2 separate regions of the Homo sapiens genome follow, and region 1 is linked to region 2. The links come from fine-mapping of genetic effects on gene expression. Tissue or cell type: whole blood. Region 2 holds a variant in brackets; the other region holds the start of a gene. All regions are shown on one strand. Distances are between the middles of the regions.

What was found. PIP is the estimated chance that this variant, and not a neighbour inherited with it, causes the effect.
Region 1: FIG4 starts here. The variant in region 2 is fine-mapped to the expression of FIG4 in whole blood (TOPMed, PIP 0.99).

What each region holds. Positions count from the first base shown.
Region 1 is chr6:109,686,192-109,695,320 of GRCh38, reverse strand. FIG4 (FIG4 phosphoinositide 5-phosphatase) reads right to left here and starts at 4,025. Exons shown (of 23, transcript NM_014845.6): 1 at 3,820-4,025. The coding sequence starts at 3,885. AK9 (adenylate kinase 9) reads left to right here and starts at 4,119. Exons shown (of 41, transcript NM_001145128.3): 1 at 4,119-4,174. RefSeq lists an enhancer at 4,072-4,541 and a silencer at 8,108-8,308.
Region 2 is chr6:109,767,352-109,775,351 of GRCh38, reverse strand. The region is part of intron 15 of FIG4 (FIG4 phosphoinositide 5-phosphatase); the gene reads right to left. Among named protein-coding and RNA genes, the nearest start is that of FIG4, 80 kb to the right of the region's middle. The variant G/T (reference allele first, on the strand shown) is at 3,655.

The DNA of each region.
Region 1 (9,129 bases), 81 kb after region 2:
CCTCATCTTAAAAAGAATCCTTAAAGGGCACCCATTTTTCTTTAGTTAACAGAGTAAAAAAGACTGCACCAATATGGTTAAATTCCCAGGACCCTCGGTTCTTTGTGGATGAATTAAATGGCTGGTATCATTAGTTACAAAAATGTCTTGACCTTGACGGAAGTTAGCTTGAGAAATAAAGTTTACATTTGTTATTTTTATCTTTTAATTCCATTTTCCCATGAACTTTTTGAAATCCCCTCATATACACACCCAGTAGTGGGACTGCCGGATTTTTAGTTTTTTGAGGAACCTCCATACTGTTTTCTATAATGGCTATACTAATTTACATTACCACCAATACTATATAAGAATTCCCTTTCTCCATATCCTCACCAGCATTTGATAATTTTTGTCCTTTTGAAAATAGCCATTTTAACTGAGGTGACATGATATCTCACTGTGGTTTTAATTTGCATTTCCCTGATAATTAGTGACCTTGAGTAATTTTTCATATACCTGTTGGCCATTTGTATATCTTCTTTTGAGAAATGTCTACTCAGATCCTTGCCCATTTTTAATTGGATTATCTGGGGGTATTTGCTGTTGAGTTGTTGAATTCCTCATATATTCTGGATATTAGTCCCTTCTTGGATGAAGAGTTTGCAAATATTTTCTCCATTCTATAGGTTGCCTCTTCACTCTGTTGATTGTTTCTTTTGCTGTGCAGAAGCTATTCAGCTTGATATAGTCCCATTTGTCTATTTTTGGGTTTGTTCCCTGTGCTTTTAAAGTCTTACTCATAAAATCTTTGCCTAGACCAATATCCTGAAGCATTTCCCCTATGTTTTCTTCTGGTAGTTTTACAGTTTTGGGTCTTGCACTTAAGCCTTTAATCCATTTTAAGTTGATCTGTGGATATGGCAAGAGAGAAGGGCCTTATTTCATTCTGCACATGGATATCCAGTTTTCTCAACACCATTTATTGAAGAGACTGTCCTTTCCCCAGTATACATTCTTAGCACCTGCACCACACCTTATGCCTAGTGTTCCGTTATTGGAACGCTAAGCTTGTGGGAGTTATTTATATCCTACTGCTCAAGGTCATCGCAAAGGTCTGATTTTTCACACAAAAAAATTTGCAACCTCTGGCATAAATGGGTTAAGTAACTGCCTTAAATTATCTTTGCCTCATTTTTTTTCTTTACTAAATAATATATATAGTAGTAGAATTAACAGCATGATCTCTTAGAGGTCTTATGAGGATTAAATAATAAAATATATGTAGAATATTTTGAGCTATTATCCTCATTATTACAACCTACTACAGTTTTTGTTTTTTTAATTCATAGCATTTATCCAGTTGCCTGTAATTTTATGCCTTTTTCTTATTTATTTATACTTTGAGCTTATTAGTAAAAACAAAACAAAACAAAACAAAACCTTTCTGCTTATATCTTTAACCAAAAAAAAAAAATTATTTAACAAAACCGAGACTCAGTGATTCAATGCAGCAGACATTTTCAAGGGTGGTTGCCCAGCCCCAACCATTTGCTGAAACAAAGAGGATCCTGATTCCACAGCTAAATCATTCCTGCCAGACCCCCCCTGGCCATGAATGATTTGTCCACTCAGGGGATGATAACCAATCATAGTTGAGTCGATCAGATTTTTTCTCCCAGCACCTACACTGTTTTTGGCAGTACTCTGAGAGGGTTCTCAAACCTGTTATCTCTTTCCTGCTTTTCCAGAAGCTGGATACCATGCAATGGCTCCCCTAGCATCCCTCTGATAAATTTACCTTTTGTCTCTAAGCTGGCCAGAGTTAGTTTCCATTACTTAGGCAGTTGAGAGGGGTCACAGCTGAGTTCTGGAACACACCTCTATCTCTTTGTGTTAGAGCTCCTTAATCCACATCTATTGAGAGACTACTGTTTGCAAGGCATGACCAGATATGTGCTGTGAGGATCAGCAAGGTTTTGACAGGAAAAGAGGGGGTGTGGCATTAAGAGAATAGAGAACAGCAGAAAAACACAGGGCAGATATAGGGAACTGAAAGCAATACAGTTTTACTGCAGAATAAGGCATATGAAGGCACATGGTTGATCCTCAATAAATGTTTCATTAATTGATATTAAATTAGATGTAAAACTAGATAGACAAGTTGAGGACAAATAATACATGGCTTTGAATGCCAACTAAGGGATTCAGAGTTTACTTGCTTCAGAATTGGGACCACTGAAGATTTCTGAGCAGAAGAGCCCTATAATATGAATTGTGCTTTCTGAACACTAATATCTCACGCAGTCCTCATGAGTGATCAGCTTTTTAATGGGCTGAAATTTGTGTTTTATTTACGGCCAGATGCGGTGGCTCATGCCTGTAATCCCAACACTTTGGGAGGCTGAAGCCAGGAGTTTTAGACCAGCCTGGCCAACATGGAGAATCCCTGTCTTTTATTAAAAACACAAGAATTAGCCGGTCATGGTGTCACATTCCTGTAATCCTAGCTACTTGGGAGGCTGGGGTGCGAGAACTTCTTGAACCTGGGAAGCAGAGGTTGCAGTGAGTGAGCCGAGATAGCACCACTGCACTCCGGCCTGGGTGACAGAGCAAGACTCTGTCTCAAAGGGAAAAAAAAAAAAGTTATTTATGTTTCTAATGAGGGAAATTTAGCAGCATATTTTACAGAAAATAGGTTTCATTTCAATGACAAATGATACTTCTTTATGGGTCTCATTAGAGAACTGAAAATACTTGCAAATACAGTATATTTGATAATGTCATTTTCTGCTCTAGATCTAATCAAAGTTGTCAGCAAAATTAATTTAAGGTCCACAATTCTCTACTCATGTTAACCTGAGGGAGAGGTTATTGTGCTATTAGGACTACGTTATAACTGAGAAACTGTTAAATGCCTTCTCATACTCCTCTAATGGAGACAACCCAAGTTTCAGAGAAACAGTTTATAAAGCACTCTATAACATAGTGAAGAGCATTATGAAAATATCTGGCATATGCAATCTTGTTAGCATGAAATGGGTAATATTAAACACAGTCCCTAATATCACTGTGGCACCCCAATTTAGAAGAGCTATACTGTACCAACTTTGCTTTCCACCCACAGAAAGGACCAAGTATGAAGTTATATAAACACCATTCTCCCTTAATTGAGGAACTGGTAATCGAAATACAAACTGATCTGCTTATTCACTATTTACATGGCCATTCAAAGTAATAAAATTTTAAAAGTAAATGTTATGTTGAAAAAAGTCAAGTGAAAAGCAAGATGTTATCCAAACAAATTATCTGTCTTTAAACAAAGTAAGTTTTCCTTTCCTTTCAAATAAGAAAAAAAGAGAACCAAAAAGTTCACCAATAGAAGTGTAATTCACATGAATCGCAGTGATGGTATACCATGGAATAGGAAAAAATAAGTTACAAGTCATAGTTCAAATTTTTTTCATACCCCTGCCTGTACTGTAACTTGTGAACTCTAGAACTTTAACAGACTTTCTGAAAGCTGAAAAGAATCCAGTAACTCGTACAGAGAACCTCATGAACAGTTCCTGAGGTACCACAAGCACCTGTTTCCAGCGTGTTCCAGCCATGGCTTGTAAGTGGACCTGCAAATGCTGCAATGTCCAGGGTACCAAAATAGGGGAAAGGCGCCCAGGCACAGCTCAAGGGAGCTAGCTTACCCCAAGGCTGTGTTTGACAGGGATTTGGGAACTGGAGAGGAAGGAGGAGGAGGCAGAGTACAGCCTCTGTCCTACGGCCCCACACCCACCGGCAGACATCCATCCTCCCGCCTGCGCCCCGCCGCGAGGGGGTACTCACAGCTCTAGTCTCATACAGAACCAGCTTCTGGACCGAGCTGATGATGGGGGCGGCGGCCGTGGGCATGGCGGCGGCAAATGGGGGCCCCACAACAGGGCACGAGCCTCCGGACCGCCCCAGGAGACTCGGCGAGAAAACCCCTCAGGCCCTGGACATCAAGTCCAGCCAGGAACAACACCCATTAGGCACTAAACCTATAGATGATCAGGTGTTTCCGGATCCCTGCGCCCCGCCTCCAGGCAAGCCCCGCCCCTCACGTCGGGAGCGGGGCTGGAGGACGTATCATAGAGAGGTCGGGTAGAGGCTCCCGGGACCTGCGTGCTGCCGAGAGAGGAAGCGAAGGGCACCATCTTTGGTAAGGATTGGAGGAAAACATGGGCGGAGAAAAAGTCGACGGATTAATTGAGTCTATTTATCTCCTCCCTCTCTTTGGAAAAAAGCGGAAGGTTTGGGATTGGGTAGCTTCTTTTGAAAAGGGTTCTCCGAGTTGCAGGATAGATCCTTGTGTTTTCCCTGCCTGCTGCGGCCCATTTTCCTGGAAGCCGGCCCTCTGACGGTCCTTCACTGAGTGTCAGTTTTCCCCTCACCTCTAATCCATGTTGTACCTACGCTGTGTGGCCCAAGAAATTGTTTTAAAATCACCTAAAGCTGGAAAGTGTGGCTTTGCCACACGTTTGTGCGTGAGGCTAGCCACTTGAAGTTGTCGACAGAGACTAGCGCAGTGTGGCGGAGCCGCGCTTGAAATGAGGTTTCTTCATTTCATGTGTGCGACATAAATGGGCATGCGCGTACCCTCTCTTCCATAGTTGTGAAAATGAGTGTATTATAATTATAAATGCCAAATTAGGTACAAAAGTGACTATTTCGAATTGGAAAAGAAATGACAAAGAACTACAGCCCCGCCTCTCGAGGCCCCGCCCCACCAAGCAGCAGGTGCGTGGCGGCCAGAGGTCTCCCCGGCAACCGCCCGACAGCCCCGCGGAGTCCCTGGAGGCAGTTGCTTCCCTGAGGAGGGTCCGGCTGCGGCCAGGTAAGGAGCCTTCCGGCGGCCCGCTGGGTCGTGGTCCGCCCTGGAGGCATCTTGGTATCTGTTGCACGGAACCCCGCCTCCTGCGGGGACCCCCAGACCAGCTTCTTTTCTTGCAAAACGGTCTCTTTGTAAATCCACTTTTTAAAACCACGTCTCCTTTCAACGACTGAAGTATTTATTCCACAAATATTTACTGAACACCTACTGCAAGAGTATAAGATGTAGGGGAGAGGCAGCTATCCTATCTTAGGCGGCAATTCTAGGTTTCCCAGGAAACCTCTAAACCTCAGAAACCTCTGCTAGAGGGCTTCTCAACTGCTAAGTGTAAGGAAACTTTAAAAAAAAATTATAGAATTATAGCATACCCAGATAACATTCATGTAATACCAAAGATCATATTGTAAATTAAAATTTGAGAAATTACAAAAATTGTAAAGAAATACTTAAGTCTATGTTATTTTGCGCTTCTTTCCCCCTGTAGTTTGGTACTCCTTTTATTAAGAACTAGAAGGATGGCCGTGTCCGTTCTGGCATTTTGGACTTGGATCTTTTAACTGGGAAAAATAGTTAGCTGTGTTCTGTTTCATAATGAAACCAACTCTTCTGAATATTAGTTAAATGTTTGCACAGTGTTTTTATCTAGGATAGCAACTCTTAAAATACCTGAAGGATTCTAGTTTTCAATTATTATAGTTTAGCACTTCCATTTTAACTTTATCTTAGTTTATTTCACCCGGAATCAGATCCTAAGACAAAACTTTGAAGGCAGGTTGTTTATATGAGACGTAATCCCAGGAAACAGCAGCAGGGAGGGGAAGAAAACTAATAAAGGAAATATTACCAGAGAAATTTCTCTGTGGGCTGAATTCACTAGGGAATACTGGGAGGCATGTCTCAGTTATCCCCTCTTGAGGGGCAAGGAAGCTGGAGTATTTATTCGCCAACTTCCATCAGTTATTGGATGAAGCCTGATAGGGCAGAACATTGATGCCCTAGAACTTCCAGTCTACCCTGTGTTCAGGGAGAGTAGGTTCTGGCAGCCAGAGAAAGCCCTTAGGCAAAAAGTCGCACATGCTAACATTTTGGAAGTTGGGCTGGTCGTGCATAGAAAAGGTGTATGTCAAGTGGATATGGGGGAGGCACTAATAGCAGCTGCTACATTCCACCCTTTGCAGCACTCGTATCCATTCTTCCTCCACATCAAGTTCACACCATGCCACCCTAATTCTTTAAGGTAGTGGCTAGTCTCAATTTTTAAAAGAAAAGGACTTACAAAAAAAAAGATTAATGGGACAAGCTGCAGAATCCACTACTGCAATTAATCTGAGGTCTCTAATTGATCATCTCCTTCCTCTAACATCATTCTAGATTTTCCTTACTCTTGGCCAACACTTCTGCTGGTCTGTGTTTGCCCAGTAGGATAACAAGCTTTCATCCCTGAGGAGCATAAGCCCTTGGTTACTGTGTCATTGTAAGGTTTTGGTTGCTGCAATTACCCATTCACTGGACATGAAAGCATCAAGAGCTGTCTCAGAGAATCCCCTGAGTTCAAGAAATGCATCCCCTATCCCACTTATCTAGCAGTTTATGGCCATACCACCCTGAGCACCCCCAATCTCATCCAATCACATAGCAGCAACCCTATCTCCATCTGCCAGTGCAATAACTCCTTATGAGCTTTTGGAGTCAAAAATGACCAGGTGGCAGCAGTAGTTTTAAGATTTAATGAAACCTTTACTGGGTCCCCTGATAGAACCATCTCTCCCCTCCACCAGACCCAGGACCTCTTGTCCAGAAGTGAGGTGCAAATTTCCCAAGTCAATCACTGAGAGTATTAGTGAGAGGGGTCACTCCTACTTCCAGCCCTTGATTCAAAGCATGTTCCTCATCTTGAAGTACATTGTCTCAATCCCACACAATCCCAAGCTAGCGCCTTAGCTGTGCCTTTAAGAGACCATTCCAACATTCTGTCAAACCAGTAGCTTCTAGGTAAAGTGGTATTGTAAAAAGGGTCCTCTGATCCAAGGCAATGGTATATGAGATCTCATGAAGATAAATGAGACATACTCTAAACCTTTAGGTAGTGGTGCTGGCCAAGGCACTGCAGGTAGGAAAAACAAGCCCATATTAGGAGCATTTGTCACTTGCCCCTTTAAAGGTGAAGGGGTCCTGTGTAATCAATTTGTCACTGAATGAATGTTTTGTCTCCTAAAGGGGTTGTACCATATTGAGGGCTCAATATGAACAGGTCTCAATTTGTAATCAATTTGTCACTGAATGAATGTTTTGTCTCCTAAAGGGGTTGTACCGTATTGAGGGCTTAATATGAACAGGTCTCTGCCATGAACAGGTAGAACATTCAGCAGCAGTAGTGTAGCTAAACCAGCCTGGTGAAAGGAGGCCTTGATATGAGCCCATGCCTATCCTTCATCACCTTCATCCCTGCCACCATGCCTACTTCATTTACAAACCCATTATGCAAGCATTGAGGTGACCAGAAGCAAAGATTGGCTCATGTCTACTGGATAAATTATCCTGTCCACCTGGTTTTTTCAGTGCCTCTTCTGAGGTGGATGCTTTCTGAGATACAAATATCTATGTATTTTACATCCACTTACATTAGTTTTCTATGCTGCATAGCAAATTACTGCAAATTTAGCAGCTTAAAACAACACACATTTGTGATCGCACGGTTTCCATGGCCAGGAGCCCTGGCATCACTCACCTGGGTCCTCTGCTCAGGGTTTTACAAGGCTGCAATCTGGTGTTGGCTGAGATGTGCTTCCATCTGGAGACTTGACTAGGGAAGAATCCACTCCCAAGCTGATTCACATTGTTGGCAAGCATCATCGTTTTGTGGTTGTAGGACTGAGGTCACTGTTTTCTTACCAGCTGTTGGCAGGGGCTGCACTCACATGCCACCCACTCTTCCTCATCACGTGGTCCTCTCACAACATGGCAGCTTACTTCTTCCAAGCCAACAGAAAGTCTCCCTCCAGTCCCCTAAAATGGAGTCTTATACCATGTAGCATATTCATGAGACAGACATTCTGTCACCTTTGCTCTATTTAGAAGCAAGTTACAGACCCCACTCCCACTCAAAGGAAGAGGATTATGCAAGGGTGTGACTCACTGGAGGTCAGATTAGGGTGTGTTTGCTACACCACCCTCATAGGCCCAATCACATGCTTCTTCCCCAGAACTCTTTTTCTCTTACCTTCTGATCTTGTACCTTCTAGGCCCTTGATGAAACCAATCCGCATTGTCCTCCAAATTGAGGGCCTAGGAATACTGCTTAAAGCTCTGCCTGCCAGGAAGATTTCCCCTAATCACCATTTTTCAGGGCCACTTGTGAGAGGAACTCATGTCTGGAAGCATTACATTTACAGCTTTTACCAGTATATTGTGATTCATCCATGAATTTTGTTTTCATTTTCTGTCAGCTCTTCTTAGGGAATTCCACATGAGGTGTGAGCTGAAAGAGACATTGGTGCATGAGACAGGTGACATGGGCATCTGGGCTGCTTATTTTTGAAATTTATTTGTGCCCTGAAGACCTGTTTGAGCCTGATCCCATTGTTCCATTTTTATCATTTAATGGGTTGCTGCAGTGCCTGCCTGACTTTAGGACTTGACTTGTCTGACATAACCAGCTCATAGTGGATACTTCCAGTTGCATAGTCACTTGATATCCCATGACCAGGCATTCATTCTCTACCAGAGCCCAAGAGCATGCCAAGAGCTGTTTTTTGAATGGGGAATTATTCTCTGCTGCAGACAGCAAGGATCTACAGAGAGAGGCTCCTGTTGTGGCTTTCCTAAGACTCCAGAAGGTATCCTTACATACCACAGCATTGTGGGACCTTTAGTATTGTGGGATCTAGCCAGATGTATGGCCCAGGAAGCAAAGCCTCTGGTACTACAACCTAAAACTACAGAGCTCTTTCTTGCTGTGTGCCCCACTCAAAAATGACAGCTTTCCATGTCACCCACTAAATGGGTCAAAACAGTATTCTTTAGTGCGCTTTATGCTCTCTTTGAAAACTAAAGAGGCCTGCAAAATACTGTGCCTCTTTTTTAGAGGTTGAAGGTACAAGGTACAGTAACTCATCCTTTACCTTGGACAGAATGTCCCAGACCACTGGCCTTTTAAAACTTTACCAAAGTAATAAGACCTTCAAACTTTGTAGGTTTATCTCTCACTTTATACTTACTGCTCATGTGTCTTTATAAGGGGATCCGGGACACTTGCAACTTCCTGCTCACTAGGTCTGATATTG
Region 2 (8,000 bases):
TTTTTGGAAGTACTGCTGCTGCAACTGAAAATACATGTATGATGTTTACGGTCACTTACTAAGCTTGAGATATAAGGCCAGCCCTAATGAGCCCAAGGATCTTCTCCTGGCTACTTCTGACTGCAAATAAAACAATCACCTCCAGGAAGATGGTGGTACTCTGGATATGAACAAGGGTTTAAAACTGGTAGGCTCTCTGTGGTTGTGGATAACAAGAGGGCGAAATGATTAGCCACTTTTATGTTTAATTGTGCTTGAAGGGAAGAAAGAATATGCACCAAATACCATTCAAACAGGTTAAACATTAGCCAATTTTACTACTGACTACATTTAAATAGATCAGGTTTAAATATAACAATTCTTTTTAATTAGAGAAAAAAATTCATTTTTGAACTGAAATAGCTCTTATTCTAATATTAAGTTTATGATACAGTGTCCTCTGAAATCAGCAATGAAAGGAAGTATTATTCAATAAACAGTACAATAGTATTGGGGTGGGGGTGGAAGGGACAATGATGTTAGACCCCTACCTCACATCAGACATTGAAATAAATACCAACTAAATGTAGGAAAGACACAGATTAACCCCTAATAGAAAAACAGGTACACACAATTTTCAAAAGAAACAGAAACAGCCAATGGATATATAAAAATCCAACTTCGCTAGTTATCAAATACTGCAAATTAGAACAACATACCATTTTCTGTCTGTTAAGTTGGCAAATACATTTCAAAATAGGCACTCCCATACTCTGCCAAGGGGAACATTAACTGTTTACATCCTTTCTGAAAGGCAATTTGGCAAATATATATCTATATAATATATATAGATAGATATTTTAAGCCCTAAAAATTATTTTTACCCTCTGACCTAATAAATTTGCTTCTGAACTTTTCATAAGATCAAAATATGCAAAAAGGTATATGTTCAAAGATGTTTGTTTAGAACAACTCTAAATGCACAAAGCAAATAACTAAATTATGATGCTTCTCAAAGATAGAGTACCATAGGGCTACTAAAAATCATGTTATAGAAGAATATTTAAGGTTATAAAGATTCATTACATTATCTAAAAGAGCAAAAGCATATTATAAATTACAGGTATAGTAAAACCAGAAGGATCATGTTCCCCTAAATATACAAGTGGCTATCTCTGGAAGGTGGGGATCATATGATTTATTTGTGAGCCATTCTGTACTTTGTATAATTAACATATATACTTTAGTAGTTGAAAAAAATGGCCAGGCATGGAGGCTCATGCCTGTAATCCCAGCACTTTGGGAGGCCTAGGCAGGCAGATCGCTTGAGCTCACAAGATTGAGACCAGCCTGGGGAACACAGGGAGATTCTGTCTCTACAAAAATAATAAAAAATATGAGCTGGGCATGGTGGCACACGCCTATAGTCCCAGCTACTTGGAAGGCTGGAAAGAGGGAGGATCACTTGAGCCCAGGAGTTAGGAACCAGCCTGGGCAACATAGGGAGACCCTATCTCTACAGAAAAAATAAATAAATAAATAAATAAAAATTAGACGAGTGTGGTCCCAGCTACTCAGGAGGCTGAGGTGGGAAAATCACTTGAGTCTGGGAAGTCAAGGCTGCAGTAAGCTGTGATAGCACCACTGCACTCCAATCTGGGTGGCAGGGTAAGACTTCACTCAAACAAACAAACAACAAGAATAGCAAACCCCTGCAGCCATCCAGATAACAGTGGATGGCCGTGGCTGTGTGGACTAGCGTGTCAGAAGTAGGGATGAAACACAGAAGATATTATTTTGGAGGTATAACCAACAAGATTTGTTGACAGATGGGATTGGGGAACAGTGATGAGGAAAAGAAATAATGCAGGGAGAATTCCTAGGTTTTCTGAATTGATCAATGGGTATTGAAGTAGAAAAAACAAGTAGAGAAACGGACTTGAGACAGAGTCAAGAGTTTCTGTCTCAGAAATGGTAAGTTTGTGATTTTGTTAGATTTCTGTGGTAGGAAGAAATTTGGCCCCCAAGACCTTTGCTCCCTAGTATCATACCATGAATATTTTCTACTACATGGTAAAAAGGACTTTGCAGATGTAATTAAGGTTACTCATCATCAACTGCAAGATAGAAAAATCCTAAATCATCTGGTTGGGTCCACTGTAATCACATTAATCCTTTAGAGGCTGAAGAGGAAGGCAGGAGGGGAAGGCAGAGAGATTTGAAGCACAAGATGTATTTGGTGCACTGTGGTAGGCTTTAAAATAGAGCAGGCCACAAGCCAAGAAATGCAGCAGCCTCTAGGAACTGACAGTGGCCCCCAGCCAACTGCCAGCAAGGACATGGGACATCAGTCCAATAGCTGCATGGAATTCTGCCAACAATGAGAATGAGCCAGGAAGCCTCCAGGTAAAAGCCCAGGTCAGCTGACATTTTGACTTCATTTTAACGTCATGTGACATCATTTTTACTCTAGTCTTGTGAGAACCTAAGCAGAGAATACAGCTCAGTAATGCTGTGTCCATAGACTTCTGATCCTCAGAAACTCTAAGATAATGGGTATTGTTTTAAACCACTGAGTTTGTAGTAATTTGTCATGGCAATGATAAAAAACTAATTCAATGGCCAGGCATGGTGGCTCACACCTGTAATCCTAACACTTTGGGAGGCTGAGGCGGGCAGATCACCTGAGGTCGGGAGTTCAAGACCAGCCTGACCAACATGGAGAAACCCTGTCTCTACTAAAAATAAAAATCAGCCAGGTGGTGGCACATGCTTGTAATGCCAGCTACTCGGAAGGCTGAGGCAGGGGAGTCTCTTGAACCCAGGAAGCAGAGGTTGTGGTGAGCCGAGATTGCGCCATTGCACTCCAGTCTGGGCAACGAGAGCAAAACTCCATCTCAAAAAACAAAAAACAAAAAAACTAATTCAATATCCCAGCAGAGATGCTAGGTAGACATTTAGATAAATGAGTCTGGAGTTCATGAGAAGTTAAAGTTAGAGCTAAAAATCTGAGTGTCAAATGCATGGTAGTCAAAAGCTGAATGTGATATCCCTAGGACAAAACTGGAAAAAGAGAAAGGTTTAGAAACACAGCAGGGGAAGTCAATAGGAGACTGAGACTCTCTCCTATTGACAGAGATCTCAATATCCCACTGAGAGATCTCACAAAGTGAAGTTTAAGAAAGAGGAAGTGGTCAACTGTGATGAAAGTTGTTGAAAGGTTGAGTAAGATGGAGTCAGAAGAGTAAACATTAGATTTGGCAATGTGGGAATTGTTGGTAACCTGGACAAGTACAGTTTCGGTGTCATGGCAGGGCAGTTGCCAAGTGGAGCAGGTAGAGAGAACACAGTGGAGACAACCCTTTCAAGAGGTTTTGCTCATGAGAGCAGAAAAATAGGACTGTGGCTGGAGGGGCATGTGGGATTAGGAATAGCTGGAAAGGGTGGATGGAAAATGCTAAGGTATGCTTTTATGTTAATGGCAATGATGCATTAGAGACAGAGAAACTGATGATGTACAGCAACAAGCATATAGTTAGGGAACACAAGAAGGCATGGGATTCAAAGAAAAAGGCAAGGTTTCACTTAAGATGGAGCAGGGCCACCACAAGCATTGTAATACAATATAGGGTAGAAACTATGGGTGCAGAAAAGGACGCCCTCTGCATTTGATGG[G/T]AGAATTAGAGGAAGTCCTGGCTAACATGGTGAAACCCCGTCTCTACTAAAAATACAAAAAATTAGCCGGGCGCGGTGGCAGGCACCTGTAGTCCCAGCTACTCGGGAGGCTGAGGCAGGGGAATGGCATGAACCCAGGAGGCGGAGCTTGCAGTGAGCCGAGATAGTGCCACTGCACTCCAGCCTGGGCCACAGAGCGAGACTCTGTCTCAAAAAAAAAAAAAAAAAAAAAAAAAGAATTAGAGGAAGTTCCCTTTCAATAACTTATTTTCTCACTGAAGCACGAAGCAAGGTCATCAGATGAGACTGAGGTGTTGTAGTTTTAAGGAGAGAGGACAAGTTATGAAATAGTCATTTTGGAGAGGGGAAGAATGAACTTACTATGGAAATGTCACAGGACAGTCCGTTGTCCTTTGGAGAACTGTAGTCTGTTTAAGAGTAATAAATTACAAACTTTTCTCTTGCCATGTACAACTGCTTTGGTTGCAGAAGAGGTGAAGAGTTGGGCTTTAACAAAAGTTACCAAGGGTATTAAAACAAACGTTATTAAAACAAAACATTTTTCCAACTGTTTTATTTCTGCTATTGCCAAATACAGCTTATTCACTCACAATCTGCTGTTTGAAGGATAACCTCAGAAGGCTATCTCACTATTCTTGATAAATTAAAATGTTCTCAGCATGTTCCCTTTGATGTCCCTCTTTCAGCAGTGAGCAGAAAGGGGAAGAAACTGCTGGCAGTCCTTTAGAGTACTATCATAATGCCAGGTGAAGCCACCTCAGCACCATCTTCTGGGATCACTGTCTTCCACACGTGATAAGCTTTGAAACCCTGACCCTGTGATATCGTTTGGATATTTGTCTCTGCCGAACTCTGGTGTTGAAATGTAATCCACAATTTTGGAGATGGAGTCTGGCGGAAGGTGTTTGGGTTGATGCACTCCTTGCGATAGTGAGTTCTCAAGAGATCTGGTTGTTTAAAAGTGTGTGGCACCTCCTTCCCCTCACCCCTTGCCATGTGAGACACCTGCTCCCCCTTCTTCTGCCAGGATTAAAAGTTCCCTGAGGCCCCACCTAGAAACTGAGAAGATAATGGCACGATGTTTCCTGTACAACCTGCAAAATCATGGGCCAATTCAACCTCTCTTCTTTATGAAATTACTCAGTCTCAGGTATTTCTTTATAGCAACGCAAAAACAACCTAACACACCTTGGGAGCTTTTCTCTTTAGATCCCTGTTGAGAACATGATTCCCCTCCATGCATGCATACACACATTCACTACATTCAAATTATGCACACGCATGTGGGTGTACATATTTATGTTAGGCATATATATACACACACACACACGTATATACAGCAGATCTATTATTAACTGCTGTAGGTTTCTTATCTTTTTTTTATAATAGGATTTAAATTCAACAAGCTCCAGCAAGAAAATCCAGGCTTAAAAATTTGCATTTAAAAAAAAATAGAAAGAGCTTAGCAAGGCCCTTAAGGGAATTAAAAGCTCTCCCTAACATCTGAAGAGATACCTATGCTTTCCCTGTAAAGCATCCTCCAACTCCCTATGTAACTAGTTATATTAAAAACTAAAAGGTGCTTCCTAGACCAACATGCATGCTAGCATGTGAAGCCTCAAGAACAGTTTTTAAAATGAATAGAAAAAAGGGTCAGGTGAGTTGACCCCATAGCATCAGTCCATCCACATAAACCAAGGGTAAAATTCCTAACAACCTAATTTCACTATTCTGGTTGCTTTTGTTTGCTTGTTTTTTGAGAGACAGTCTCACTCTGTCACCCAGGCTAGAGTACAATGGAATGATCATAGTTCACTGCAGCCTCGAACTCCTGGGCTCAGGGGATCCTGTGCCCTTAGGCTCTCACATAGCTGGGACTACAGGTGTGCACTACCATGCCTGGTTAATTTTTGTATTTGTTGTAGAGATGGGATCTCACTATGTTGCCCAGGCTGGTCTCAAACTCCTGGGCCAAGCAGCCCTCCTGTCTTGGTCTCCCAAAGTGCAGGATTACAAGTGTGAGCCACTGTGCCCAGCGCTTTTTTTTTTTTTTAATCTAGTTTATCAGTATGTTCCTGCCTAGCCCAGAGGCATAACATGAAAAGATTGATTAAGTTTTGCAAAGTTGTCTTGAGTGGTTTAAAGAAAATTCTTCTATATTGCCACCATTATATAATACCCATTGTAATTTAAAAATAAGTTGTACACCCCAATGATATCATGCTTCTTAAAATAAAGAAGCCTGTTTTAGCCACATTATTCATAAAATCATTCCTTTCACGGTAGTTCCTCTTTCAGTTGTGCATAATTTTGCCTTACCTTTCCATTTGTGCACATCATTTTCTCAGAATATCTTTATCTTTTATATTACTCCTTTCTTTTTTAAACATGGACAGCTACACAGTCATTCTGTCCGTCCTCTAGTCTTATTAAAAAGCACATTACACTCCGGAGGCTGAGGCAGGAGAATCGCTTGAACCCGGGAGGCGGAGTTTGCAGTGAGCCGAGTTTGAGCCACTGCACTCCAGCCTGTAGACAGAGCGAGACTCCCTCTCAAAAAAAAAAAAAAGCACATTACTTGATCCTTAAGTGTCAATAATGACCCCTATTACAGGGACAACGACCACAGGAGAGGGCAAAAGAACAGATGCCCTTTTTCATGGTGATATACACCCTGAGGGATATGTACGTATTAGCACATGACAGAAGTAGCCGATGAGGATTCTCCTCTCTGGGTTTTCAGAGGGAGCATGGCCCTGTCAACACTTAGATTTCAGACTCCTAGCCTCCCGAACTGCAAGAAAATACATTTCTATTGTTTTGAGCCACCGGTTTGTGCTGTTTTGATACAGCAGCCCTAGGAAATGGATGTGGATTTCCCCCGTGTTTGTGGGCAGGGGCACCTATGATTTGCTCCTGACCAAAGAAATATGGCAAAGATGACGGGATGTCACTCCCATTATTACATTACATTTGTAAGACTCAGTCTTGCCAGCACACTCATCCTATTGTCAGCTGTGAAGAAGCACGCTGCTATGAGTCCTACAGCCACAAGGAACTGAATTCTGCCAGCACGTGGGCTGGGAAGTGGTTCTTTCTCAATGGCAGCCTTGAGAGACCCTAAGCAGGGGACCCAGTTAAGTTGTGCATAAATTTCTGATGCACAGAAATTGTGAGATAATGCATGTGTACTGTTTTAAGCTGCTACATTTACAGTCATTTGTTACACAGCGCAGAAAACTAATACAGTTGGACAGGAGCATAACAGACCAGCTTTGCAAACTCTCTGGGCCTAGAAAATGTGGACAGCTGACTCTGATGGATGCTTTCCCAGATGCTTCTGAAGCTGCCAGCACTGGGGACTCTCTTACAATTCCCTTTTATCAGGCAGTTTCTTATAATTCCTTCCTTGGCTCCTTAGGTATCCAGTGTTTACCTCCTGGATCTTGCTGCTAAGGTCTCTCTGTCCTTCCAGGGGCCTTACTGGCCAGGACCCAGGCCAACCCCATGCTGGCACCCTCCTCCACGAGGCCCACATCCGGTTACCAGTCAACACTCAAGTATCCTTTGGCCCACCCAACTGGAGGAATGCAGACAATTCCCAATGTGGCACACTCTCCTCAGCCCATCCCTCTGCTTCAGATCTGCTGTGCAACAGTCCAAGGCCTACATGCTGCGTCTCTTCAACAGCAGGATACCATGTCAAGCTCACCCAGAGTCCTGTTGAAGCCCACTCTCTTTTCACTGAGGGTGGGTGTTATTGCAGGCAATAGTTCACTCCTAAGGACCTTTTTTTTTTCTTTCCGAGATGGAGTCTTGCTCTGTCGCCCAGGCTGGAGTGCAGTGGCGCGATCTCGGCTCGCTGCAAGCTCTGCCTCCGGAGTTCACACCATTCTCCAGCCTCAGCCTCCCGCGTAGCTGGGACTACAGGCCCCCATCACCACGCCTGGCTAATTTTTGTAATTTTTTTAGTAGAGACGGGGTTTCACCATGTTAGCCAGGACGGTCTTGATCTCCTGACCTCGTGATCCGCCCACCTCGGCCTCCCAAAGTGCTGGGATTACAGGCATGAGCCACCACGCCCAGCCCCAAGGACCTCTTTACTAATCTTCTCCATATTATGTAAACTTTTCTATCCTTAATCTGGTACAAGAGCTGAAGACTCATGAAATCAATCACTGAGCACTTCCTTCATAAATTCTGTGCATGGGGGTTTGTCTCACAATCACTTTGGTCTGTGATACCTATTGTATTGGCAATTCCATCAGAATGGAGGCAGGAAAAGCACCATTTCAACACCCTGTTACATGTAGTATTCACAAGTC